4 linked regions of the Homo sapiens genome follow. The protein of the gene in region 4 interacts with the protein of the main gene of each other region in a pairwise test. Each region holds a gene or a part of one and is shown on either strand. Other genes may lie near its edges. The genes, in order: OLFM4, PIGF, NKG7 and TMEM130.

Region 1 (6,775 bases), on a different chromosome or scaffold from region 4:
CTGTGTCCTTCCAGCTCTAGGTCACCTGTCTTCTTACATATTCTCTTTGGTAAAGGTACTTCTCTTCCTGGTATAGCCAGTTAGTCCTTTTGCTTTCTGCCCAAGTCCTCCTGTCTGGGGAAGATCCAGAGGCTTCTGATCCATGTTCATAGCTCAATTGGAAAAGGAACATAAGCTACATAAATGTAGTCTAGCATTGGAAATAATCAGATCAGTCATGCAAATTAATAAGTACATAAGGTCATATCCCAAAAGATAATAGGGCAGTCATGTACAATAAAAGCTGCCAGAAAGAGTGGATTTTAAAGGGAAAGAAAAATGAAAGAGCCAGCCTAACTCTGGGCTCTTATAAAAGTTATTGATGTGATCTGTTGTTAGGTGTGCAATCTCCCCGCACTAGTGTTTGGGAGGTAGCCATTCTCCCAACCTCATAGCAAGATATGGACTACCCTGTTAAGAGCTTTAAAAAAAAATTAAAATTAAATAAAACAAAAGATGACTTTTTTCAAAGCACATTTTAATCATTTATTTTAAAAGGGGGAGTAAAGCATTTAAACTGCCAATCCTATAGACTAGGACTTGAACATCAAAGGAAAAATAGACAAAGACTAGATGATAAAGTCATTCAAAAGCACAGAAGCACATCACATACACCAGCAAGGTTTCCAACTACTGCACTGATTAACTAGATACTCTCAATAGCTTTTCTATAGCTCGTCCTAGAAAAAAAAATTAAATTTTCATTTTCTTACAAGTTCCAGGCTTAAACAAAGGCAAAAATTACATGCAACAACTGATACACTCATAAGTTGCACATATGCTCCAAGGTCTTTATTAGATAACAATAAATGCTAGCACTTTGTCACTGCCATCAGATTTTCTTATAGTCTTAGAGTCATGTAAATAAAAGTTCATAATGAAATTAAAGAAAATTAATTTTTCTAATCTTAGATCAGTTCCATAGAAAACTATTAATTTTTTTAAAGTAGGCAGTAGAAGGGGGTTGGTGGGGGGTGGAATTGGTTAGTAAGTCTGGTTCTAATCTTCTGAGCTGCCTTTGGAAGGAAGTTATGAGGTAGAAGATTCTACTGACTTTTAGTAAGGTGGACAATGAGAGAAAAGAAAAAGCAGGTGCCTCATCTACAGATCCTTCTGGGATTTATTTGCCATGTACAATTTAATGCATAAAAAGGCCTCTCTCCATAAAACTCAGCACTTTACAGATGTAGAATATATAAGCATGCCAAATTTACTTATCTGCCACATACAAAGCATCATTCCAGGTGCTAGTGAGGGGAAAAAAAAGTTGGAGATTTGGTCCCTCGAGGAGCTCCAGATATTAATCTACCTAACTAAGTCCCCAGGTTTCTTCCAGGCATGGAAGAATTAGTGGTGCTACATGGATGAGGACTAGTCATTGGGCAATATTTCCTGTACAAAGAATCCCTAGACGCCATACTGAGTTTTAAGTTCCTTAATTCCTAATTTAAGGCTTCTAGTGAAGCCTCCTCACAGTAGGCTTCACTAGGCCCACAGTGCCCCTAGACCTCTGACAATCCCACCCTAGACAGACTTTATTGCAAAATGCGCCTGAAGAGGCAGATGATTCCCAAGAGAACTCACCAAATCAAGACAAATGTCCTAGATCTCTAGTGTGGTAGAACTATGCACCTAAACATTGCTGCAAAATGAACACACTTTTAGACACCCCTGCAGATATCTAAGTAAGTGGAGAAGACTATTTTTTCAACAAACATTTTCTCTTTCACCCTAACTCCTAAACAGCTTACTGGGGCTTCTGCAAGACAGAAAGATCATAATTCAGAAGGTAACCATCGTTATAGACATAAAGTTTCTGGTCAAAAGGGTTATAGTTAATGCTCTGCACTTTTTCCTGCATCTTATGCATTACAATGTCTAGTTTGCCCTCTTTCCCTGTGTTTGTGTCATAATAGTAAAAAATCTCTTCTGTTCTGGTGTTCATAGTACGGGTGGCATACAGAACCCCACATACCATGAAGGCGTTAGAAGCAGATGGTTTATACTGCTTGGTATACCAAGTGTTTAGCACCTGAAGTGTGGTGTCATTGAGTTTACTAATCACCATGTTACCAGTGCTGGCTTCAGTTGAATAAATAACCCACAATCCATTCTCATCCACAGCAAAGTCAATATCTTGCCAAGCAACATTAGCATATGAAAAGCGGTTATTATAGGCAGCATTAGGGAGAGTTTGAGTCACAGCAATCGTGTTGGTGGTCAGGTTAACTCTGGCAATATTCCCGGTGTTGTACATGTTGACGTACATGTTGTTGTTGTAAACTGCTGTACCACTACCTTGGCCATAGGTGATCCGCAACTCTCGAGCATTTATATACAATAGCAAATCATCCAGTGTGTTGTACAGTCTATAATACTCCAACAGTCTCCCATCTGTATTCAATGGCGCCACCCAATACAGTCCTTTGTTTGGATGCTGGGGAGAGTAATCCCTACCCCAAGCACCATATAGATAAGAAAACCCTCTCCAGTTGAGCTGAACCACAGACGGTTTGCTGATGTTCACCACACCACCATGACCACAGCTCCCTATACAAACAAGAAAATAAAAAGGCATTTTTAGAGAAAAGGAATGACAGGATACAAATAGTTTAATATCCTAAGCACCAAAGGAATCTATAAATATTTTTCCTGTCAAGGTTCAATAACAACAGTGGTTCTGATGGAGAAGAGCCAAACCTCCTCTTAGTTCAGTGCATTCAGTCTCAATGCAAACCCAATGTCAGCTCTACAGAGAACTACATTCTGTTTCCATGGGTGGGCTTTCAATCTGGAAAATAGGAATAATGAAACCAGCAAGAACTATATTTAAAAAGTTTGGAGGCCCAGAGAGAGGAAAGGGAGACTTGGTGAATTTAATATATTTCCTTCTATCAGAAAGCATTTTGCAAATATTATCTTATTTTGTTTTTCTTATAGCAAAATCAAGGAAGCAAGATTATTCCACAATCCTACCCTATTTCTATAAATCCACAAGATTTATAGAAATCTATCCCAGAAAGAATAGTGATGAGGGAGAAGATTTTCCCAGGCAAGGCTTCATGCCCTTCCTCACTCTCCCCTTCCTTGGGACCCCCAATTGCACATCCACGCCAGGTACCAATCCTGCTTTAAGCTATTCTCAGAAGAGGATGTTTTAAATATAGCATTTTATAGATCCAGAAAGATGGTCCTATAATGGTGGGATTTCACCCTTGAGAAGCCATAAAGTTATTTTGGGGCAACATTGCCTGCTCCGTACCCAATGCACAGCCCATCAATAAATCACTTGCTGACCGTCCTGCTGCAGAGTTACATGGTGAGTCCTGCTGTTCATAACCCATATGCTATTGTGCCATAGAATGACATGCAAGTATTTCATCTTTCCATCCAGACACTGTCATTGTCACAATGTGTACAATCAAGTGGGACAAGATTCACTGGTCCACTGAATCTACATTCCCTGTAACACTTGGGTAAATAACTCAGTCTGGGCGATCAACCCTTCACATTGTACTCCCGCTGAAATGCCTGCCATCCCAGGAGTTTATGAGCTATAAAAATAAAATAAAGTTCCTCCAGTATTTTTATAATAACTATCCAAAGAGTTGAACACACATTTTCTGGGATCTTAACACTCAAAAAAACTCATGAGATGGTTTATTGGATAACAAAGAAAACCCAACTTCAAGTATATTTGAGGTCATTTTCCCTCGTCCTGCTGCTCAGAGCAGAGCAGGTGAGACAGGAAAGGAGCAGAACCTGAATTGTTGGATTTGGCCTGAAATACTTGCAGGGACTCAGAGAGCCATTGAGGAACATGAGGTGAGCTGGAGCCAAAAGCAGAGCTCCAAAGAATTGCCTGAGATTAGCATGGAGGCGGGGAAGGGGGAGCAAAGCCTTTGTCTCTGGGTCTCTGCTGTGTCCAATATGGAAAGACCCATTCCTTTCCTTGCTAAATGCTTTCCCTCCCCATCCTCCTCACCCAAGGACTGCTCAAAGGTGAAACCATTACTAGAAATTCTGTTTTTATTTTTCCAATCGGCTGGGGCTTTTTGGTCCCAGAATTAAATATATGCTCCTTAAATGCTCTCATAAATCCACAGTTGGTGAGAAAGCCAGCCAACCATACAACAGGTAGAGAAATGAAACCACTCTGTATCCAACCTCAAATAATTTTGCATATCATTAAGCAGAACACAGTCACAGGTTTATTTTAATAATGCATGTGCCATTTCATAAATAAAAAAGCAACGTGTTTTCAGCCAAGAGACTATTCTCCACTGAAGAAATAATAAATAAAATTATAAATTATTATTTCTTCTACTAAAAGTGATCTCTCAGATGAATGCTTGTTTGCTTTTGTTTATGAAACAATGCATGAATTATTAAAATAAAGTTAGCGGTGTGTTCAGTTTAATGATAACAAAAACTGTTCAAGTTTCCATATGCTACAAACTGGATTTTCTAGCTAAAGTATCTTCCTGAGAACTTATTTATTTAACTACATTTCACTCTGAGGAAAGTCACTTTTTTTTCTTTCAGGTTGGAAGACAATAATTGTTTGCTTCATTGAGTCTTGCCTTCCTGAAAAGAAAATATCCCAAACCGACAGCAACAAAATATTTAAGGAAAATTGATGATGCATATAACTTATTCAAGCACTACCAAGAGGTTAAACTATTCTGTCCCCAGATGTGGAAATTTTTAGACATGAAGGAACCAAAATAAACTTCTCAAAAAATTACTATTACTACTGCTATTATCATAAAACTAATTGCATTATTATTAGTATAATAGTATTAGTACTATTACTATTGTTACTACTACTAATAGTAATAGTGGCTCATCATTTCATAAGTTGACCAGAAAATTCAAATTGCCCAGTGTAAATATTAAAATGTATGAAACTTTGTTTTTCTCACCTCCCAAACATTCCTAAACACTTTCCTGTTCATTTGTTATCCTCCTTTTATCCTCTATGGGTAAGGATAAAGGGCTATTTTTAGGGCCCCGGCTGTGGTAGAAAGGAAGTGGAAATGGGGATGAGAACTCAACATTGCTGCCAATGCTACAAATGTGGCCACAACAATGTCAGACCAGGAAAAATGCTATGGCGGGCTTCCTCGACTCCTGGCAGCAAACCATCTTGGACACGATACTGAAACTGACAGCCAGTCCAGTGCCCACTGTTCCTCAGAGTCCCCATCCCCCCATCCCATCTTCACTGAGCTTCTCACCACCCTCCCTTATCTCATGCTCCTTGCCAGCCCCTTCCTTCATGTCAAGGTCTTAGACATACTTCATTCCATACTTCATACCCAGTTTCCATCCCAATTTCACCCTGACACTTGGGCAACAGCCCATTGCCCAATCATGATCCAAGAATTCTGAAAGACCATTGAATCATTTTGCATTTTCTGGTGGAAGAGAACACACAGCACAGAACTGTCAGGAGCAACAGTACCCTTTTACCTACTCCACTACCAAGGAAGCAAAAATAATTTGGTGTTAAGCAGATAGGTGAGTTGTTGGAATTTTCTTTTCACTCCAGAAATCACAGGTGCACCTCTCTGTTAGAGCAGCTATGGAAGGCAGCCTAGTATGGAAAATACTACTAGACAGATTCTAATTCAAAGCCTGATTCCAACAGTAGTTGTGTATCCTTGAGCAAGTTACTTAACCTTCTGAGCCTCAGTTTCCTCATGTCAGAAGAAAAATAATACCAACTCTGCAAAATAGTTACGAAAAATACAGAGAAGACATGTAAATGTTACTCAGTAAATGGTAAATATCTCAATATAATCACATCATGTTACAACTGGAGGTTTAGATGTCTCATTTCCTAGATAGTGGCTTCTGGAGGTTTCTTTACTCATGCTGGTAACCCCAGTACCCAGAACAGGGCCAGCCACACAGTGGCACCAAATTATGTTTGTGGAATAAAGGAATGAAAGATTAATCAAGTCACCTAAACTCAGCTTACCCTTATTTATAAAACACTAGCCTTCTACCCTGCTACATATCTGGTTTTTCAAAAAGCCTGGCATTTACTCCATGGAACATAATTTGAGGAACCCTCTATAGAAGTTTAGCCTTGGTTGGCACTCTCTTCATCATGCAATTCATTAGATGGCACCATGGTACTCTGAAAATACCTGAGGAAGCCATAATCATGAGAATTTAAAATATTCTGACTTGGCTTTTTAAAAGTATCATGGTTAGTAGCATTTTTTTGAAGCCAATAATTATATGCCTACAGAGGAAAATTAGTCTTGGATCTATTAATGCACTCTCTCAACTGGGCAACTGAACTTTGTTTGAGCCAGGAGGAGAATATGATTGACTTATAAGAATTAGGCAATTAAAACAATCATAGTCATAAAATGATTAAGACTAAATTGACTCTGAAGTGTTGGATATATGCTGTTCAACATGTGGCTCTTCCCTAAGCTTGAGATTTTAGCAGGTCACCCCATTTCTTTCAGACCCCATTTAATCATCAGCTACTTACTGAGCATCACTATGGACCAGCACAGAACCTTGCATCCCCAAGCAAACTGGAGATCAACCCCTGAGCACCCGATCACATTTGGCCTATATACAGTCATTTAGATTCACAGGCAAAACAGAGACAGACTGAAGTTTTAAGGGAAAAAAGTTAATGAGTAGAAGGCCAATTATTTTAGATTAGAAAGTTCTATGAAATGAGGCAGAAAAAGGACGTTGTTTGTAG
Region 2 (7,030 bases), on a different chromosome or scaffold from region 4:
TATATTACCATGGAAACAGAACCTCTTTTCGACTCATGTAGGTCGGATGGGTAGAATATGGGCGGAAGGTGGTATTTGCCTTTTAGGCTTTTTTAGTCTGTATCGAAGGCTGTGTATGTGACGGTACAGGACATGTGATCTGATTTGAGTATACCCAAGAACATTTGAACTGTTTTACACATTATGGGAACAAGTTGTGTTTGTAGATGAAATGGAAGAATTTATTGTCCTTTAAGCATTATCTTGAATCTTCAGGTTATTCATTTCTCTTTTAGGTAACTGGATTTTTGAAATGCTGTATCTACTTTCTTATGTCTTGTTTCTCCTTTCATGTAATTTTTGTTCTGTATGGAGCACCACTGATAGAGTAAGTTTGAAATTTTTACCCTAAATTTATATTTTAAAACATTCATTTACCAAACTGTGTGCTAATTCTTAGCAACTAGAGAAAAACCATGATGTGCATCATTAATAGATCAAGTAAGGACACCAACATCATTAGCAGTGTTATTCTTTTTTAAAAAAAACAGCAGAATAACTTAATTTATTAAATACTCTTGTTACCTAGCCTTCTAGTATCCAATTGCATGTTGAGAGAAGGGAGAGTAGAGAAACTATACTATACCAATAAGTATTTGGCCCTTAGAACCTCTGAAAGAACTTACTATGATTATATGTGTAAGTTATAATTAGCATATCAGTTCTTATAAATGTGATTCTAAAGTACTTGAATGGAGTTTTTCTTAACAAAAGTCAATAGATTCCTGTATTCAAATACTGAATAAGCTGGTGTTTATAGTTTAAAGGTAAAATTTAACACTTTTTCTGAACTGACAAATTTCAAATTCTTAGAAACAAAATTCATGAATGTTTCTTACATAATGTTTATCATAGTTTGAGAAGCTTCAGTTTAGCAGTGATTAATGATCATGGTGAAATGAGTGATGAGATACATATACATATACACACACATATATTTGTGTTGCTAAGTATACCATTTTATATATATATATATATTTATACATAGTTTTACGTACACACACTAAACTGACAGGTTATTCTTTTCTAGATGGGAGAGAACAAGACCTTTGTAATGGAAAATGGTGGTTCCTGTCTAATCCATTTTAAAGCAGAATGAATGTGTCTGGCACAGTGGTTCTCAAAATGTGGTTTTCAAACCAGCAGCATCAGCATTTTATCAAAATGCAAATACTCAAGCTTCAGTCAGAAACTCTAGGGGTAGAGCCCCCACCAATCTTTAGTTTATCCAGCTCTCCAGGTGTTTCCAATATATGTTAACCACTAGTTGTAGAGAACCACTACAACTAGTATTCAATAGTGGTTCAATAGTGGTTCAATAGTGTATTGAACCACTAGTTGTAGAGAAAGTTCCAGAGAGACTATTGAGCAGAAAGCTAACTATCTAGAAATGGATTTTGTTTGTTTGTTTGTGTTTGCAGTGAAAGTCTCAGCATGGATCCTAGGGTCTTTAACACTTCTGAAATCTATCATTAAAGCGAAATACTTGCTAGATTGTTTTTTAAAGCTACATGTTGGTGGTAAAATTATTTATAGTCATCATTTTGGTGGCATTCATGTTACCTTTCAAAGTAAAGCATAGGAAGATATTTCACATTTTATTTATATAATAAAGATTATGTATGTGTATGTTTACCTTTAACACTTTTTTAAAAAGTAATCTTTTTTTTTTTCTAGGTTGGCATTGGAAACATTTTTATTTGCAGTTATTTTGTCTACTTTTACTACTGTGCCTTGCTTATGTTTGTTAGGACCAAACCTCAAAGCATGGCTAAGAGTGTTCAGTAGAAATGGGTAAGTTTTAATTTTATATTATAATGATATTGAAATTAAAAAATAATTAATGAAGTATTTTTCTATTCATGGCAGTTTGCTGATTATTCTGAGTGCTTCTCATTGCTGATGGTGCTCAGAGATGCCTTAAGGGGTCACTGCAATTAGGGACTGGGGACAGGGCAGGCAGAACTACAAGCCCCTCCCTCCACGTTAGCAAGATCAGCTCTCCTTTTTTCTGTATGGTAGAATTCCACCTAGCCTTTTGTTTGTTTAAAAAAAAAAAGAAGAAGAAGAAATAAAAAAAAATTCTACTATTAAAAGAAAGCCTTGAAAACCATGGTTCTGGGATAATTTGGCACTGTGATAAGACTGCTGTAAATAAAATTGCTTACATACATTTTATAAGGTAGAAGTGGGGTCCACAATCTAAAAATGTGTTGTGTAACAATGATAATTTCTTGTTTAGCCTTTTTTGTGATAAGATACCAGAGCTCAAGTTTTATGAGATTTCATTTCCTTGGTGGCCGTATATATTTTCAGCATGGCTAAGTTAAAATTTTAGCTTCTTGAAAGTCATTTAAATGATATGCACCAGAAATAGTGGAGATCTAGCTAAGAAAGCCAGAAGGTTATTTGATTCTTTCCTATTTATCACCCAGCAGCAAGAACTTCTTGAGCACTTAGTCTGTGCTCTGTGTTATTGTGTTATGCTAAGCTGTGTGTGGTTTCTGAAGTATTAGGAGGAATCTTTTTTTTTTTTTTTGAGATGGAACCTCGCTCTGTCGCCAGGCTGGAGTGCAGTGGCATGATTTCGGCTCACTGCAACCTCCATCTCCCAGGTTCAAGTGATTCTCCTGCCTCAGCCTCCCAAGTAGCTGGGACTACAGGTGCATGCCACCATGCCCAGCTAATTTTTCTATTTTTAGTAGAGACAGGGTTTCACCACACTGGCCAGGATGGTCTTGATCTCGACCTCATGATCCGCCCGCCTCGCCTCCCAAAGTGCTGGGATTACAGGTATGAGCCACCACACCCGGCCTTATTAGGAGGATTCTTTTGCTGAGGAGCTTATCTGTTCAAGGGACAAAAATGAGCAAATAACATCAGATTACAAATGTGTAAATCCAGCAATAAGTGGTGTAGGAACTCAAAGGGACAGAGCATCAGTAAAGAATGGAGGGGGAGATGGGAATGATCTATGATGGACTTAAGTCAAGAGTATATGATTTGGTGAGACCAAGAAGGAAGAGAAAGGCACCTCGTGCAAGGAGAATGGATAAAAGCATTGAAACTGAAATGAACAGGGTATTTTTGTGTGATTTGAAAGGTAACAGCCCAATGAGAGCAAAAGATGCATGCTGAGTAGCTTGGCTTCATAAATTACCGACTTATTCCCTTTGAAATCAGTACTGTTTGGGACGAGTGTGGTGGCTCACGCCTGTAATCTCAGCACTTTGGGAGGCCAAGGCGGGTGGATCACCTGAGGTCAGGAGTTCAAGACCAGCCTGGCCAACATGGTGAAACCCCATCTCTACTAAAAATACAAAAATTAGCTGGGTGTGGTGGCGGGTGCCTGTAGTCCCAGCTACTTGGGAAGCTGAGGCAGGAGAATTGCTTGAACCCAGGAGGCGGAGGTTGCAGTGAGCCGAGATCGCACCACTGGACTCCAGCCTGGGCAACATAGTGAGAATCTGTCTCAAAAAAAAAAAAAAAAAAAAAGGAATCAGTACTGTTTTCCCTTGGAACCGTCTTCTAATATTCATAAAGTCTCTAGAAAACAGAAGTGTAACAACTGAAAGCATTTTCTACATTATTACCATAATATCCCAAATGGTATTAATTGCTTTTAGCCTTTTAGTTTGAAATTTTTAAATAGTGAAATTGGATTGAAATCTTATTACTTTGGATTAGTGATTTCTCCAGTTTTCAAGTCTATGTCTAATAATGGGTGTATTTGGGGGAAATACTGTCATGTGATTTTACAATTAGTTCTGCTATAATGTGGCCTGTGTGTTCCTAAAAATCACTACGCTGTACAAAATGGGCAGTAAAAACCACAGAGCTTATGGGAAAGATGGGGTTAGGTCATAACACTAAAACAATTCATCAGTGACATGTAGAGAGAAGATGGGAACTTAATAAAAATGGTAGCACAGTTTTACACGTTTAAAATGGTTACAAAATACAGGCATACCTCATTTTATTGTTCCTCACTTTATTGTACTTCTCAGATATTGCTCAGATCAGATACTGTTTTTTATAAATTGAAGGTTTGTGGCAACCCTGCATCAAGCAAATGTATCAGCGCCGTTTTTCCAACAGCATGTGTTCTCTTCATTGGAAACTCTCACAATATTTCAAGCTTTTTCATTATTATTATATCTATTATGGTGATCTGTGGTCTTTGCTGTTACTTTTTGTAATTGTTTTGGGGCACCATGGCTCATACCCATATAAGATGACGATCTTAATAAATGTTGTACATCTTCTGACTGCTTCACCTACCAACGTGTTCTCTCTGTCTCTCTCCCTTCCCCACCCTCCCTCTCTCTCCCGTCCCTGTTCCCTGAGATACAAAAATATCAAATTTAGGCCAGTTAATAACCATACTATGGTCTCTTAAGTGTTCAAGTGAAAGGAAAATTTTACTTGTCTCTCACTTTAAATCAAAAGCTAGAAGTGATTAAGCTTAATGAAAAAGTTAAGTTGTCAAGAACTGAGACAGACTAAAAGTGAAGCCCCTTGTGCCAAATAGCCAAGTTGTGAATGCAAAGGAAAAGTTCTTAAAGGAAATTTAGTCTACTCTAGTAAACACATGAGTGACAAGAAAGTGGAACAGCCTTACTGCTGATGGGGAGAAAGTTTTATGGTCTGGATGAAAGATCAAACCAGGTACAACATTCTAAGCCAAATCCTAATCCAGAGTAAGCCTCTCACTCTCTTCATTTCTGTGAAGGCTGAGAGAGGTGAGAAAGTTACAGAAGAAAAGTTTGAAACTAGCAGTGGTTGATTCATGAGGCTTAAGGAAAGAGGCCATCGCCATCACATAAAAGTGCAAGGTGAAGCAACAAGTGCTGATGTAGAAGCTGGAGCAAGTTATCCAGAAGATCTAGCTAAGATTGTTGGTGAAGGTGGCTAAATAACAGATTTTTAATGTAGACAAAACAGCCTTCTATTGAAAGAAGATGCCATCTAGGACTTTTAAAGTTAGAGAGGAGAAGTCAGTGGCCACCTTCAATGCTTGACAGGCTGACTCTCTTGTTAGGGGCCAGTGCAGCCAGAGACTTTAGTTGAAGTCAATGCTAATTTACCATTTTGCAAATCCTAGGGCCCTTAAGAATTATGCTAAATCTACTTTGCCTATATACTGTCAATGGAACAACGAAGTCTGGATGACAGCACATCTGTTTATAACATGGTTTACTGAATATTTTAAGCTCACTTTTGAGACCTACTGCTCAGAAAAAAAAAATCCTTTCAAAATATTGCTGCTCATTGACAATGTGCCTAGTCACCCAAGAGCTCTGTTGGAGATGTACAAGAATATTAATGTTTTTTTCATGCCTACAACACAAGATCCATTCTGTAGCCCACGGATCAAGGAGTAATTTTGATTTTCAAGTCTTATTACTTAAGAAACACATTTTGTAAGGCTATAGCTGCCATAGATAGTGATTCCTCTGATGGATTTGGAAAAAGTAAATTGAAAACCTTCTGGAAAGGACCATTCTAGATGGATGCCATTGAGGACATTTGTGATTCAAGGGAGGAGATAAAAATATCAACATTGACGAGAAGCTGATTCCATTCCTCATGAATGATGTTGAGAGGTTCAGGACTTCAGTGGAGGAAACCACTGCAGATGTGGTGGAAATAGCCAGAGAACTAGAATTAGAACAGGAGCCTGAAGATGTGACTGAATTGCTGCAACATTATGATAAAACTGGAACAGATGAGGAATTACTTCTGGATGAGAAAGAAAATGGTCTCCTGAGATGGAATCTACTGGTGAAGATGCCATGAATATTGTTGAAATGACAACAAAGGATTTAGGATATTGCATAAACTTAGTTAATAAAGCAAAGCAATGGCAGGGTTTGAGAGGGTTGACTCCAATTTTGAAAGAAGGTCTACTCTGGGTAAAAGGCTGTCAAACAGCATGGCACGCTACAGATCAATCTTTTCTGGAAGGAAGAGTCAATTGATGCAACCAACTTCATGGTTAAAATTTCACTTTAAGAAATTGCCGGCTGGGCGCAGTGGGTCGTGCCTGTAATCCCAGCACTTTGGGAGGCTGAGACAGGCAGATCACTTGAGGTCAGGAGTTTGAGACCAGCCTGGCCAACATGGTGAAACTCTGTCTCTACTAAAAATACAAGAAAAATTAGCTGGGCGTGCTGGTAGGCCCCTGTAATCCCAGCTACTTGGGAGGCTGAGGCACAAGAATCACTTGAACCCAGGAGGCAGAGGTTGCAGCGAGCCGAGATTGTGCCACTGCACTCCAGCCTGGGCGATAGAGCGAGACTCAGTCTTAAAAAAAAAAAAGAAAAGAAATTTCCACAGCCTCCCCAACCACCACCCTGATCAGTCAGCAGCCGTCAACATCAAGGCCACATCTTCCACCAGCAAAAAGATTACAACTTGCTGAAGGCTCAGATAATTATTAACATTTCTTAGTAATAAAGTATTTTTAAATCATGTGCATTTAAAAAACTAATGCTATTGCCCACTTAATAGACTATGATACAGTAGAAATATAACTTTTATATGCACTGGGAAACCAGAAAATACATATGACTCACTTTATTGTACAATTTGCTTTATTCTGGTGGTCTGGAACCAAATCTGCAGTATCTAAAAGGTATGCCTGCACCCAAATATTACAATAAACATAGCACTTTTCCTTGGAAAAGGTTTCCTTGGTAAAGGTTTGCTTCTGGAAATAGACATGAGAAGGGTTGCCTATTGTGAGTTATTGCGAAGTGATGAGATGGTTGTTGGAAATCTGAGGGAAAATTAACACCAGATGTGCGTATGTGTGGCTCATGACACGTAGTAAACTGAGGTAGCTGGGAGGTGGTTATTTTTTAAAACAGTATTGAGATATAATTCACACACCGTACACATCATCTATTTAAAATATACAATTCAATGACTTTTTGCAACCACCAATCTACTTACTGTCTCTATAGATTTGCCTATCCTGGAAATTTGT
Region 3 (6,490 bases), on a different chromosome or scaffold from region 4:
ATGTTCTCTCTCCAGAAAAGTCGTCTCCATCCCTCCACAATATGGTCAGTCTTTTTCCGGCATTCTCCCTGCACTGGGACTGCTGTCTGGCCTGTATTAACTGCTTCTGGTCTGTAAGTGCCTCCTCCCCACCACCCCACAGACTGAGCCCCTGCTGGGCAGGGCCTGGGTCTGACCCGTGCCAGTGTCCCCAGCATGGGGAAATGTGCAAAGAGAACTGACTGAGTGCAAGGAAGGGCTGAGTTCTGGCAAGGGGGACAAAATCAGAGAGGGAGAGAGAAGGAAAGAGAGCCAGCTAAAGGGAGAAAGACACAGGGAGGAAGAAAAGTGCTGGAGAAGGGGAGACATAGACACGGGTTGGAGCCTGTGTCCACACGGGCCGGGCACTCGTACTGGGCAGGAGCGCCCTGCAGGCTGGTCGGCCTGGTGGGCCCTCACCTTCCCTTGGTGCCCAGCTCCTACCATGGAGCTGGCAGACAGTTGGCTTATGTCTTGGCAGAATTAATCTCAAAATAACCAGATTCCAGCCAAATTTTGTTGAATGAATGAAGAAACAAGAGGAGGGGCTGGGGAAGGGCTGGAAGGGCGGGCAGATGTGGGACCAGACTTTCCCGAGGCTCCAGATGAGGCCTTTGGAATACAACGCTCAAAACTCATCTTGCCGCTCTTGCCTTCTGCTCACAAGGTTTCATAGCCAGGACGGGGACCGCCACAGTGAGCACCCAGGCTCAGGGCACCTGGGGAGCCAGAAAGAGTTTAAGCACTTGCCCCTGCCCTCTGTCCTCAGGGACCCCAACTGGACCCTCCCAAAGCTCCCCAGGGCAGTGGGCAGGATAGTCACCTGTACAGAGCAAGAGGATAGCTGAGACCCAGCCCAGGTAGAAGGACCAGGAGAAGAAGGTCTGGATCTGGGGGTGTGGAGGCTGGTCCCACCGCTCGCTGGTGTACACCGCCATGGCCACCACCATGGAGATGGCTGGGGACAAGGACAAGAGAGATGGCTCAGCTCCTCGGCAGGAATTCGCTGGCTCGCGATGCCCCAGTCCAGTCCAGAGTCCTTACCTGCAGCAAAGGCTGCGGTGGTTGAGACAAGCGGGCCGTGGCCTGGGGGGAACAGTGAGGGGAAGCAGGACAGGACCAGGAAGCTCACGGACACCAGGGCCCACAGAACAGCCATAATGCTGAAGGTCTGCGTCACGTGGATGTAGCCTGATCGGGAGAAGACCACTGAGCACCCATCCCCGCTGGCAACCCCTCTGTAGGACACCCATTCCCCTTACCTGATATGATGTCCCCATGCCCTGTTGGCCAGAGGCCCGAGTGAGCTGAGTGGGTGGGACCCACAGCCTCAAACCAGAAATCGGTGCTCAAAGCAATCAGGCAGAACATCAGGCCCAGGGAGCCCCCCAGCAGGGCCAGGGACCGGCAGAGCTCCATGGGGATAAGCTCAGGGCTTCTGGGTCCTGGAGGAGGAAGAGGCTGCTGATCAGACTCTTGAATCTCAGAGAGAAGGAGGCTGTGCACCCAGACTCCTGGGTCCTTAGAGCCCAAGAAAGAGAGAACAGCAAGCAGTTGGGGCAGTGAGGGGTCCTGCGCTTTGTCACATGAGGCTGGTTTGGTTTCACACAGTTCCCGGTAGCTTTTCACATACCCTCCCTTCCTGGATTGCACAGGCAACGTCCTCCCTCCCCTCCCTGGGGTCCAGTTCCCCGCTTAGTGTGTGATGGGGGAGGGCACTGAGGGTGTCAGATCATCAGTGGTTTGGGCGGTGGTTTAGTACTTGCCTCTGTCACAGATTCTACAACTCCCACCCATGGAACCTTCAACACCAAGTCGGGGCTTCCTGGAAGAGGTGAGAGAGAGAGGCTTGGGGGCCCTGAGGTGGGAGGAAGCCAATCAGGCTAGGGTGTACATTAAGGGGGAGGGCAGATGTGGCTGGAGGGGACAGCTGGGGATGTGTCATGCTTTCCTGTGGGTTATGCAGTCTTCCATTCTGGGAGAGGAAGTCCCCAAGTCTAGGGTCTCTACTGAAGGAGGGGACTTGGGAGTTAGAACTCCTGGGGCTTAAGGAGGAAGGAGCTGGGGGCCTGAACTCCAGGTCCTGAGGGAGGAAGAGGCGGGCAGGAGCTCAGAATCCTGGGCCCCAGTTTGGAGCATATGCCAAGGGCAGGCAAACAGCAGAGAATCACAATTCTGAAAGGTTTGCAGAGAGTCAGACATACCCACATCCTCATCTGATTAATGAGTTCAGTGGCATCCCTGCTTGGGTGGGGGCTCCAGCCTGGTGGCCTTTATCACCAGGATCGGGGGGCCTAGGGGGTGTTGGGGGACATAAGGATTTTGGTTTAGGGTTCTCCAGCCCCCCAAACGCTAGCCTCTTCCATCCACACCATCAGGTCCTGGCAACACCTCATCTACGAGCAGGTATAAGGTGACGGTACCACAGCCCAGGTAGAAGGCCCAGGAAAACTTGACCTCTGTGAAACGGTGATATGGTTAGGGTTTGTGTCCCTACCCAAATCGCACCTTGAATTGTGTCCCCATAATCCTCACGTGTCTAGGTAGAGACCAGGTGGAGGTAATTGAATCATGGGGCCGGCTTCCCCCATGCTGTTCTTGTGATAGTGAGTGAGTTTTCACAAGATATGGTGTTTTTTTAAGGGGCTCTTCCTGCCTTCGCTTGGCCTTCTTCCTGCCACTCTGTGAAGACAGTGGCTTGCTTCCCCTTCACCTTCCACCATGATTGTAAGTTTCCTGAGGCCTCCCCAGCCATGCTGAACTGTGAATCAAATAAACCTCTTTCCTTTATAAATTACCCAGTCTCAGGCATTTGTTGTTGTTGTTGTTGTTGTTTGAGACAGAGTCTCACTCTTGTCACTCAGGCTGGAGGGCAGTGGCAAAATCTCGGCTCACTGCAATCTCCACCTCCCAGGTTCAAGCAGTTCTCCTGCTTCAGCCTCCCAAGTAGCTGGGATTACAGGTGCCCGCCACCACACCCAGCTAATTTTTGTATTTTTAGTAGATTTCAGGTTTAGTAGATTTTCGGGTTTTCACCATGTTGGACAGGCTGGTCTTTAACTCCTGACCTCAGGTGATCTGCCCACCTTGGCCTCCCAAAGTGTTGGGATTACAGGTGTGAGCCACCACGCCCGGCCAGGCAGTTATTTATAGCAGTGTGAGAATAGACTAATACATAGGGAGTAGTCTGGAAGAGGACCTCTGTCTTGGAGATGAACTGGTCCAGCAGTCCCAGGACAGCTGGCAAATGTGGAGAATGGGAAATGACCTGGAAGACTGGTTCCTCTCCTTTATTGGAGAGACTCAGATCGGCAGCCCCCATCCTTCACTCAGATCTGCACCACTCTGAGAACACATTTATGAGCACAGGCTCCCAGAGGTGGCAGAGGCCATGAGCAGGCCAGGTCTCCGGAAAACCTGCCATGGTGTGCAGTGAGTAGCAGGTCAGAGCACACAGCCTATCTATCTGTGACCCTGACCCCCTCCCAAACCCAAAGCCATCCTTAACCCCAAACCCAACTCCATCCCCAAACTCAGTATCAAGCCCAGTTCCAACCACAAATTCAACCCATCCCTATCCCCAAAGTTAACCCTATTCCCATTCCTGAACACAACTCCATACCCAATCCCATCCCTATTCGTAATCTCCACCCTAGCTCCAACCCCCATCCTCAAATAGAACTCCATTCTCAGTCCCAACTACACACTCAACCCCATCCCCCGATTCGCCCCCATCCCCAAACCTAACGTCATTCTAATTCCCAAACTCAACATCATCCTTATTCCCAGTTCCAACCCTTATACCCTTCCCACCCTCAAATCTAACTCCATTCTCATTCTGAAACCCCACCCTATCTCCAAACCAAACCCCTCTCCATTATTAACCCCAGCCCCTACTCCAAACCCAACCCCATCCTCTTCCTGAAACTTGACCCTATTCTCATTCCCATCCCAACCCTTTTTTTTTTTTTGAGATGGAGTCTCACTCTGTCACCCAGGCTGGAGTACAGTGGCATGATCTTGGCTCACTGCAACCTCCGCCTCCTGGGTTTAAGTGATTCCTGTGCCTCAGCCTCCTGAGTAGCTGGGGTTATGGTTGTACGCCACCACACCAGGCTAATTTTTTTTTTTTTTTTGTATTTTTAGTAGAAATGGGGTTTTGCCATGTTGGCCAGGCTGGTCTTGAACTCCTGACCTCAGGTGATCCACCTGCCTCAGCCTCCCACAGTGCTGAGATTACAGGAGTGAGCCACTGCGCCCAGCCACTGTCTTTTCATTCTTCTCTGCAACCTCTATAATTCATACCTAACTCCGACCATTTTCATTCTCCTTTCACCTCCAGGTCCAAGCCTGTAACCTCATTTCTCATCTCCCCAAGTGGGTCCCACTACCACCACCATCACACCCATGCATGCATGCATACACAGAGGTGACCTGTACCTGGCTCCAGTGAGTCTCTGCACATGTAGGTATCACAGGCTGATCACAGGCCCAGGCCCTCTGACAGACACCACAAGCCAGTAAGAGCGGGTGAGTGAAGGTCATCTTTTTTTTTTTTTTTTTTTTTTTTTTTTGAGACGCAGTTTCACTTTTGTTGCTCAGGCTGGAGTGCAATGGCATGATCGGGGCTCACAGCAACCTCTGCCTCCCAGGTTCAAGAGATCCTCCTGCCTCAGCCTCCTAAGTAACTAGGATTACAGGCATGCGCCACCATGCCCGGCTGACTTTCTATTTTTAGTAGAGACGGGGTTTCTCCACGTTGGTCAGGCTGGTCTCGAACTCCTGACCTCAGGTGATCCACCTGCTTCAGCCTCCCAAAGTGCTGGAATTACAGGCGTGAGTGACCGCACCCAGCCAGCCAAGACCATCTCTTAAGAGCACAAAGGCAAGGCAGCTGGGGCCTTGAAGACAGAATTGCTCGCAGGATCTCCAGCAGCTTTCTCAACCAGATGTGGTCTGTGGTTGCCAGAGGAAAACCCCAGGCCTCCTTCTGAAGCTTTTCCTGAGAGCTCTGTGAAAGGAAAATCTTGGGGCCCCAAAATTACTGAGCTAAAGGGGAAAGTCAGGCTGGGAACAGCTCAGGGCAAACCTGCCTCTCATTCTATTCAAAGTCATCCCTCTGCTCACTGAGATCGATGCATATCTGATTGCCTCCTTTGGAAAGGCTTATCAGAAACTCAAAAGAGGCCATGCCTGTAATCCCAGCACTTTAGGAGGCCTAAGCAGGTGGATCACCTGAGGTTATGAGTTCAAAACCAGCCTGGCCAACATGGTGAAACCCCATCTCTACTAAAAATACAAAAATTAGCCGGGCATGGTGGTGCACGCCTGTAGTCTCAGACTCAGGAGACTGAGGTAGGAGAATCACTTGAACCCAGGAGGTGGAGGTTGCAGTAAGCCGAGATTGTGCCACTGCACTCTAGCCTGGGCAACAGAGTTAGACTCCATCTAGGAAAAAAGAAACTCAAAGAATGCAACAATTTGTCTCTCACCTACCTGTAACGTGGAATCCCCCTCCCTGCTTTGAGTTGTCCCCACCTTCCTGGATGCACCAATGTACTTCTTACATCTATTGATTGATATGTCATGTCTCCCTAAAATGTATAGAACCAAGCTGTGCCCCGACCACCTTGGGCACATGTCGTCAGGACATCCTGAGGCTGTGTCACGGGCGCATGTCCTCAACTTTGGCAAAATAAACTTTCTATTGTTCTTTTTTTTGAGATGGAATCTCGCTCTGTTGCCCAGGCTGGAGTGCAGTGGCACGATCTCGGCTCACTGCAAGCTCCGCCTCCCGGGTTCACGCCATTCTCCTGCCTCAGCCTCCTGAGTAGCTGTGACTACATGGCAAAATAAACTTTCTAAATTAACTGAGACCTGTCTCAGATTTTCGGGGTTCACAGCTCACGTCGCCTGCTTGGCCACTTGGTTCTCTTAGGTCTCTGTCAGTCTTGTCTAAGCACTGTCAGTTTTTTTGAATCACCCAGGTCTCTTCCAACTTTCTCCAGCCCCTTCCAACCTCTCCCGGGCTTGAAAGCTCCTCAGTAGCCCCCATCTGCCACGGAAGACCCCAAAAAATTAGCTGGGAGTGGTGGCGTGCACCTGTAATTCCAGCTACTCGGGAGGCTGAGGCAGGAGAATCGCTTGAACCCGGGAGTCAGAAGTTGCAGTGAGCCAAGATCGCACCACCGTACTCCAGCCTGGGTGACAGAGTGAGACTCCATCTCAAAAAAAATAAAATAAAATAAAATTTAAAAAGACTAATCCTCAATTAACCTACGTTCTATTAAAGAAATGAATGCTAATGGTAAACAGTTATTATGGAAGGCATCATCATTTCTATTGAGGTGCACTCTAGTCATAATATTTAATGGCTATTATAATGATAAAAAGATATTAAATCTCAGTATCATTAGAGTACATTTCAATAAATAATACTTTATGTAAGTCAATAAACAGCACTTACTTTATG
Region 4 (7,030 bases):
TCAAAATAAATTAATAAAAAGAAATAAAAGAAACGCAGAATCCCAGGCCCCACTCCAGACCTCCAAAATGAAAATTCTTGTTTACCAAGATCTCTAGCAATTCTCATGAACCTCAAAGTTTAAGAAGCCTGCTAGAGACTAGTGGTTCTCATACCTGATATGCACCAGAATCGCAGAGGGCTTGTGAAAACAGGTGGCTGCCCCCCTACCCAGGCACTGCTTCAGGTATCAGGTCGAGCCCAAGGGTCTGCATTTCCAACACGTCCCCAGGTGTGGTCCACGTTCCTCCTCTGGCTCTAGAATCCCCCTGAGGTCTCAGACAGGGATGCATGTCCAAGTCACCTGGGGACAGCTCTCCCCACCTCCAGGGACCTGAACTGGCTCCCTTCAGTTGTCTTCACCACAGAGGACAAGTGGGATGTCCTGCTGCGTCACAGCACTGCCGTTGCTGTCTGCAAGGCAAAAACGTCCATGCACAAAAGAGAGACTCTGGCCACACCGTCTATGCTTGGCTATATTCAGAGCACACAAGCTTTATTTAGCAACAATGGCAGTATTTCATGAGAATGAGCTGCACAATAGTGTAAATGCCATTTTCTGCACACAGCCTGGGAGCAGATGGTTACAGCGACAGAGCCCAGACCCCACAGTCCTCCCCTGCCCTTCCTGACAGGCTCCGGCTACTTCTGGCCTCATTATTGTCTCAGCCACAGCCCAGGTCGCTGGGCCAGAAGGGAGGGTGCAGGCTGGTTCCGCTGCTCAGGCTCTGTCATCCTGCTTCTTCCTTCTCAAGGCCACCTCGGGAGCAGCTGGCAGGCAAGAATGCCCCCCTCACACACAGGGAACCCAAGTCCCTGCTGACTCAACCTCTTCTTTTTTTTTTTTTGGAGACAGAGTCTCGCTCTGTCACTCAGGCTGGAGTGCAGTGGCGCCATCTGGGCTCACTGCAAGCTCCGCCTCCCGGGTTCGCACCATTCTCCTGCCTCAGCCTCCCGAGTAGCTGGGACTACAGGCACCCACCACCACGCCCGGCTAACTTTTTGTATTTTTTTAGTAGAGACGGGGTTTCACCGTGTTAGCCAGGGTGGTCTCGATCTCCTGATCTCGTGATCCACCCGCCTCGGCCTCCCAAAGTGCTGGGATTACAGGCGTGAGCCACCGCGCCCGGCCTTGACTCAACCTCTTCTACCGCTGCAAGGCCTTTTCCTCAGTGAAAGTTTCACAGATGGGTTTCGATAAAATAAGGTGATATTTATAAAGCACTCTGCAATCACTCAGTATTAGTCCTGCCCCCCATCCAGCCCCCTGCCAGCCAGCAGGGACTAGGATGGCCTTATAAAGGGCGCAAGAACTGCAGAGACAAAGCACAAAGGGAGGGCCCGGGCCCAGAACCTGTCAGGGCTGCTTGGAGGTCAAATTTCCTTTCAGCTCTAGTGCAGGGTGCATCCCAGCAACCGACTTAACCAGATACAGAGCTGATCATCTGAAATGCCCATGTGACGCATGTGTTTATATTTCTGTGTGTGTGTGTGTGTGTGTGTGTGTGTGTGTGTGTGGTGTGTGTACATGCACACTTCTCTCTGTGAGTGTGCCCATCTATGTGTACAACCTTTAGTTATGGATTTTTAACCCTTTATGACCTTCTTTCTAGCTCTCTGGCACAGGTAGGGCTGTCTGGGGGAGGAAACTGAGAACCCCCAATGGACAGCAGATGTGCCAATATGAGAGGAATGGGCAGTGGGCAGCCAGGCCCACCTGGGAGTCAACACGGAACACCCCAAGCATCAAAGTCCTGCACGAAGCCTCTTCAAAGGTAGGGGGTCAAGGGGGTGGTAACCGAGTGGGGCTTATGTCAGTGGCTGGACTGTACAGATGGGTGAATGGCTGGGGTCAGGGGTGACAGAGAGGGAGGGGCTTGTGGCAGTGGCTGAACTGTACAGATGGATGGATGATCCAGGCCAACAGCCCCACGCAAATGAACCCCTCCTGGTCAGTGGTGCACACCACCCTGCTGGAAACTCCAAGTCAGCAGTCAGTTAACACTGAGATGGGGTGGGGAGGGGGAGTGCTCACACGGTGTAAGTTTTGACAGACTTATAGAGGGGCGGGAGCAGCCCGTGGTTCTCACGAACAATTTCCAGGTACTCAGATGGAGTCTCCAGCAAGAAAGGCCCACAGCACATCTGGCAGCAGCACCTGACCCCAGAGGGTGGCTCCGGGTTCTTGTCAGACATGGGGGAAAAGTCAAAATCAGCCACCTATGATGAACAAAATCCCACGGGTCAATCACCCACCCACCAGGAGCCCCATCAGGTGGCCTTATGAGCTCAGCTGCCTGGTGGCAGAGTGCACAGAAACACCTTTCTGGCACCACACAGATGCAAGAGATGGATATAGGAGATAAATCAGATGGGACACCAACTTAGCAATTTTTCCTGGTCTACAGATGCCTCTTGGGCACATCACCCCAAGTCCCGGAGCCTCGCTGTAATATCAAGACCCCCTCCAGGCATCCTGGCCTGGCCCCCATACCCTCTCTAAACATCCTCTCTAGGCAAGGCCCAGTAGTCCAGCCCCCACCCCACTGAGTACCCACCTCCACCATGTCCTTTTGCTGAGTGGCATTCCGCAGGGTCATGTACATGATGAAGGCCAACATCACAGTGATAAGTGTAGCACATGGGAAAGCAAAGACAGCCGGCTGGATTCCTGGGAATGAAAGAAGTAACATTACAGGACTGGGTAGCTGGTACTACAGTGCTGGTTCTCAGGAAGCAAGCACAACAAAGGAGGGAATGGTCAAGCCCCACCAGTGATTTTTTTTACCCTCATGTACATGCATCCCAACTGGGCAACCCCAATAGGTAAATCCAGGACTTCACAAAAAATAAACTGGGGTCTGGGTAGGGGGCTTTCAGCATACATCCACAAGTTACTTGGTAGCAACTTCCAAGAGGGGCAGCTAAATTCCTCACACCTTGAGTGAGGGCTGGACTCAGCGACCAGCTCCTAGTGTACAGCAGATGAAAGGAGTGACAGTGCATGACTCCTGAGTCTAAGCCATAAGAGACACCACAGCTCCCTCTTTGCTCTCTCGGGTGACACACTTTTGGGAAGGGCAGCCATGTTGTGAGGTCACCCAATCAGCACTGTGTCCCCTGCTTCAGCTTCTCACGCTCTGGCAACTGCAGGCTCACCCAATAAACCTGTTGCTATGAAATGGTATGGTAGAAAGAGTCCAGTGTCTGAAGTTGAACAGTCCTGGGTTCAAATCCTAGCTCTGAATAGGCTACCTCATGCTAATGCTGACCTGCAAGACTGCTAAGGAGATGCAACAAGAAGAGGGGTGTTGATGTGTGTGGCATGTGGTAGGTGATCAGGAAGTGTGGGTTCCCTCTCCCTTTTCCCTCACCCTCTGCCATGAGGGTCTGTTTCCAAAGAAAAGTTGTCATTGATTACCTGTACTGCTGTCTTCTCTGCAGAATTCAGGGGGTTCCTGATTGGAACTTGGTCCCCAGAGGGTGCTGAGAGATGCAGGGCTCAAGTGACCTGATGATGCCCACAAAGTAAGCCAGGGCCAAGATTGAGTGTAGCATCCTCTCAGGGGCCCAGAGTGGGATTGGGGAAACTGGAGGGGACAGTGACAGCTTCAGGTGCATCCATAGGACCAACCTTGAAGACAAGTGCAGCTGGCAGGGTTTGGCATGAGCTTGGGAGCACTGGGAAGAACTAACTCCTACCCCAGGACCAGGAATCTGAAACCCTGGCTCAGGCTCAGGCTGACATCCAGTCTTGTTGCCTCCCTGTGCCTTAGTTTCCCCTTTTGTAGCATCAAAGGTAGAAGTAGGTTGGGCATCTGAAAGACAGTGCCTTCAGGACCTGAGATCCTACTCTATGTAAGGAAGTACTTCTCTGGGGCTCCCAGAGTCCTCCATAAAAATGAAGTGTAGAACCCAATGCTGTCATCAGCAAAGCCCACAATCGTAAGCCAGGGGCTGGGCCGATGATAGTTTTGGAAAGGTATTTCAAGAAAGAAGGTTGGGCATCCTTTTCTCTTTTTTATTTTTTATTTATTTTTCTGGAGACAGGGTCTCACTCTGTCGCTCAGGCTGGAGTGCTGTGGTGTGATCTTGGCTCATTGCAGCCTCAACCTCCTGGGCTCAAGTGATCTACCACATCAGCTTCCCGAGTAGCATAGCAGAGACCTACAGGCACACGCCACTCTCTCTCTCTCTCAATCCCTCTCTCTCTCTCTGTCTCTCTCATATATATATATATATATATATATTTTTTTTTTTTTTTAATTTTTTGAGACAAGAGCCTCTCTGTGGCCCAGGCTGGAGTGCAGCAGCTCAATCTCAGCTCACTGCAACCTCCACCTCCCAGGTTCAAGGGATTCTCATGCCTCCACCTCCTGCGTAGCTGGGATTACAGACTCCCACCACCACACCCAGCTAACTTTTTGGTATTTTTAGTAGAGACAGGTTTTGCCATGTTGGCCAGGCTGGTCTCAAACTCTTGGCCTCAAGTGATCCACCCACCTCGGCCTCTCAAAGTGCTGCAATTACAGGCACGAGCCACCGCATCTGTCCTATTTTTATATCTTTTGTAGAGACAGAGTTTTGCCACGTTGCCCAGGCTGGTCTCAGACTCCTGGGTTCAATCAGTCCACCCGCCTCAGCCTCCCAGAGTCCTGGGAGCCACCATGCCTAGCCCAGGCATCCTTATTAACAATATGCAATGCCTTCTCCCTGCAAGACTCACTACAACACTGTGAGTTGAGTAGAGTTACTGTTGGGGATGCTGGTTTTAGCAGTGGCAACTGCTGGGGCAGGGGTGATGGTGATGAGGGAGGGAACACTGCAATCATGGTGGCTCATTTGGCGCAAAAGTGTTTGTGCTGGGGACGTGTGGTCTTGGAAATATGTGGGAGAAGACATTGGCATGGTTGCTTTCGGTCCACAAAGCTGGCATTGGGGCAGGTGGTGGCATGGGCTTATAGATGTGGGTAGGGTCGGGGTCATTGAGGTGACTTGGTGAGAATGCTTATAGAGTCGTTAGTGGTGGCAATGGTGGTCCTGGAAGAGTTGTCAGGAAAGCATATGGTAATGGTGGTAGCTGAGTTGGTTACAGTTGTTAGTGGTGCTGGTGTTGATGGTGGTGCTGGTAGAATCGATGGGTGCCATATTGGGGTTGACAGAGTTGGTTGCTGGTGGGATTGGAGAGTTTGGTGGTGGTGGTATTGGCAGTTGGCCAGCGCTGATGTTGGCGGTCACTGGAGTCAGTGGGGTTATGGATGGTGCTGATGCTAGCGGGCTTTGTTGCTGAGGACCTTGGTAAGGCTGGCTGGTAGGAGCGTATTGGTGGTGGTGGCAGGATGGACAGGCTTGTGCTGCCCATGTGGCACTGGAGCAGAAGGCGAGGTGTCACTTACTGGAGGGCCACACCTGGATCTTGTGGTACTGATGTGTCTTGCTGATGATATTCTCGGCCCGGATGCTGAAGCAGTAGTCCCCAGGGTCCCTGAAGGTGTGGGTCAGGTTGTACGCTGTGCTGGCCACGGACACAGGGTGGCACTCCCCTTCCTCCAGCGGGAGGCACTCAGGCTTGAGACGCCAGCACACAGTCAGAGGAGGGCTGCAGGGAAATGGGGGCGGTTTTTAAGAAAAGGCTCAGCAAAGCATGTCAGCACAGACCAAGTCCAAGACAGGCCAGGTGGGCAGGAACTTCAGTGTCCTTTCCAGGACAGGACATCAAGCCGTCCTGGACTCAGCTTCATGCATTCCAGACCAGGGGACACTATGGTGCAAAAGAGATGGTCCCGGACCCCCAAGAGAATTCCAAGTGAATAAGGCCAACAGAGATACGCATAGACTGCTCACTGGAGGCAGGATGAGCGGTCTGATGGCACACATGGTGTACCATAGAAGCCCAGGGGAATAATAAGCACATCCCCCTTTTTGTGTTTTGCATTTTACGAGACAGGGACTCACTCTATTACCCAGGCTGAAGTGCAGTGGCTCAATCATAGCTCACTGCAGCCTCCAGCTCCTGAGCTCAAGCGATCTTCCTGCCTCAGCCTCCCGAGTAGCTGGGGCTACAGGCACCAGCCACCATGCCCAACTAATTTTTTAATTTAATTTAATTTAATTTTTTATTAATTATTTATTTAGAGATGGTGTCTCACTCTGTTGCCCAGGCTGGAGTGCAATGGCGCGATCTTGACTCACTGCAACCTTCACCTCCCGGGTTCGAGCCTCAGCCTCCCAAGTAACTGGGACTACAGGCACACACAACCATGCCTGGCTAATTTTTGTATTTTTAGTAAAGACAGGGTTTCGCCATGTTGGCTAGGCTGGTCTCAAACTCCTGACCTCAGGTGACCCGCCCGCCTCGGCCTCCCAAAGTGCTGGTATTACAGGCGTGAGCCACTGCGCCTGGCCAATTTTTTAATTTTTTAATAGCGATGGGACTATATTGCCCAGGGTGGTCTCCAACTCCTAGCCTCAAGTATTCTCCTGCCCCAGCCTCCTGAAGTGCTGGGATTACAGGCATGAGCCACTGCAACCAGCATGAGAGAGTTGTTTTTTGTTTGTTTGTTTTGTTTTTGTTTTTGTGGGGTTTTTTTGACAGAGTCTCACTCTGTCACCCAGGCTGGAGTGCAGTGGTGCGATCTCCGCTCACTGCAACCTTTGCCTCCTGGGTTCAAGTGAGTCTTCCACCTCAGCCTCCCAAGTAGCTGGGATTACAGGCATGCACCACCGTGCCTGGCTAATTTTTGTATTTTTTGGTAGAGACCAGGGTTTCACCATGTTGGCCAGGCTAATCTTTAACTCCTGACCTCAAGTGATCCACCCACCTCAGCCTCTGAAAGTGCTAGGATTGCAGACATGAGCTACCGTCCCTGACCATGAGAGCATTCTTAATGAGGTAGCCAGAGAAGGCTTCCTGGAGGAGGTGGCATTTGAGCAGATCTGAATGGATAAATGAACGTTTGATGGGTGAGAAAGGATAAGGGCATTCCAAGTTA

Evidence for each region.
Region 1: the proteins of TMEM130 (region 4) and OLFM4 interact in binary tests that used the Homo sapiens proteins (3 or more experiments, as listed by UniProt).
Region 2: the proteins of TMEM130 (region 4) and PIGF interact in binary tests that used the Homo sapiens proteins (3 or more experiments, as listed by UniProt).
Region 3: the proteins of TMEM130 (region 4) and NKG7 interact in binary tests that used the Homo sapiens proteins (3 or more experiments, as listed by UniProt).

Annotation. Positions count from the first base shown.
Region 1 is NC_000013.11:53,045,783-53,052,557, reverse strand, and holds the end of OLFM4 (olfactomedin-4 precursor), read right to left. Parts: intron 2,590-6,775; coding exon 1,787-2,589; 3' UTR 501-1,786; downstream 1-500. UniProt on the Homo sapiens protein: May promote proliferation of pancreatic cancer cells by favoring the transition from the S to G2/M phase. In myeloid leukemic cell lines, inhibits cell growth and induces cell differentiation and apoptosis.
Region 2 is NC_000002.12:46,607,031-46,614,060, reverse strand, and holds part of PIGF (GPI ethanolamine phosphate transferase, stabilizing subunit), read left to right. Parts: intron 1-275; coding exon 276-367; intron 368-1,716; coding exon 1,717-1,833; intron 1,834-7,030.
Region 3 is NC_000019.10:51,371,099-51,377,588, forward strand, and holds NKG7 (protein NKG7), read right to left. Parts: upstream 1,557-6,490; 5' UTR 1,438-1,556; coding exon 1,281-1,437; exon of another isoform or gene 1,210-1,280; coding exon 1,063-1,209; coding exon of another isoform or gene 977-1,062; coding exon 842-976; intron 738-841; coding exon 679-737; 3' UTR 522-678; downstream 1-521.
Region 4 is NC_000007.14:98,845,987-98,853,016, forward strand, and holds the end of TMEM130 (transmembrane protein 130 isoform b precursor), read right to left. Parts: intron 5,638-7,030; coding exon 5,435-5,637; intron 2,710-5,434; coding exon 2,597-2,709; intron 2,259-2,596; coding exon of another isoform or gene 2,223-2,258; coding exon 2,070-2,222; 3' UTR 504-2,069; downstream 1-503.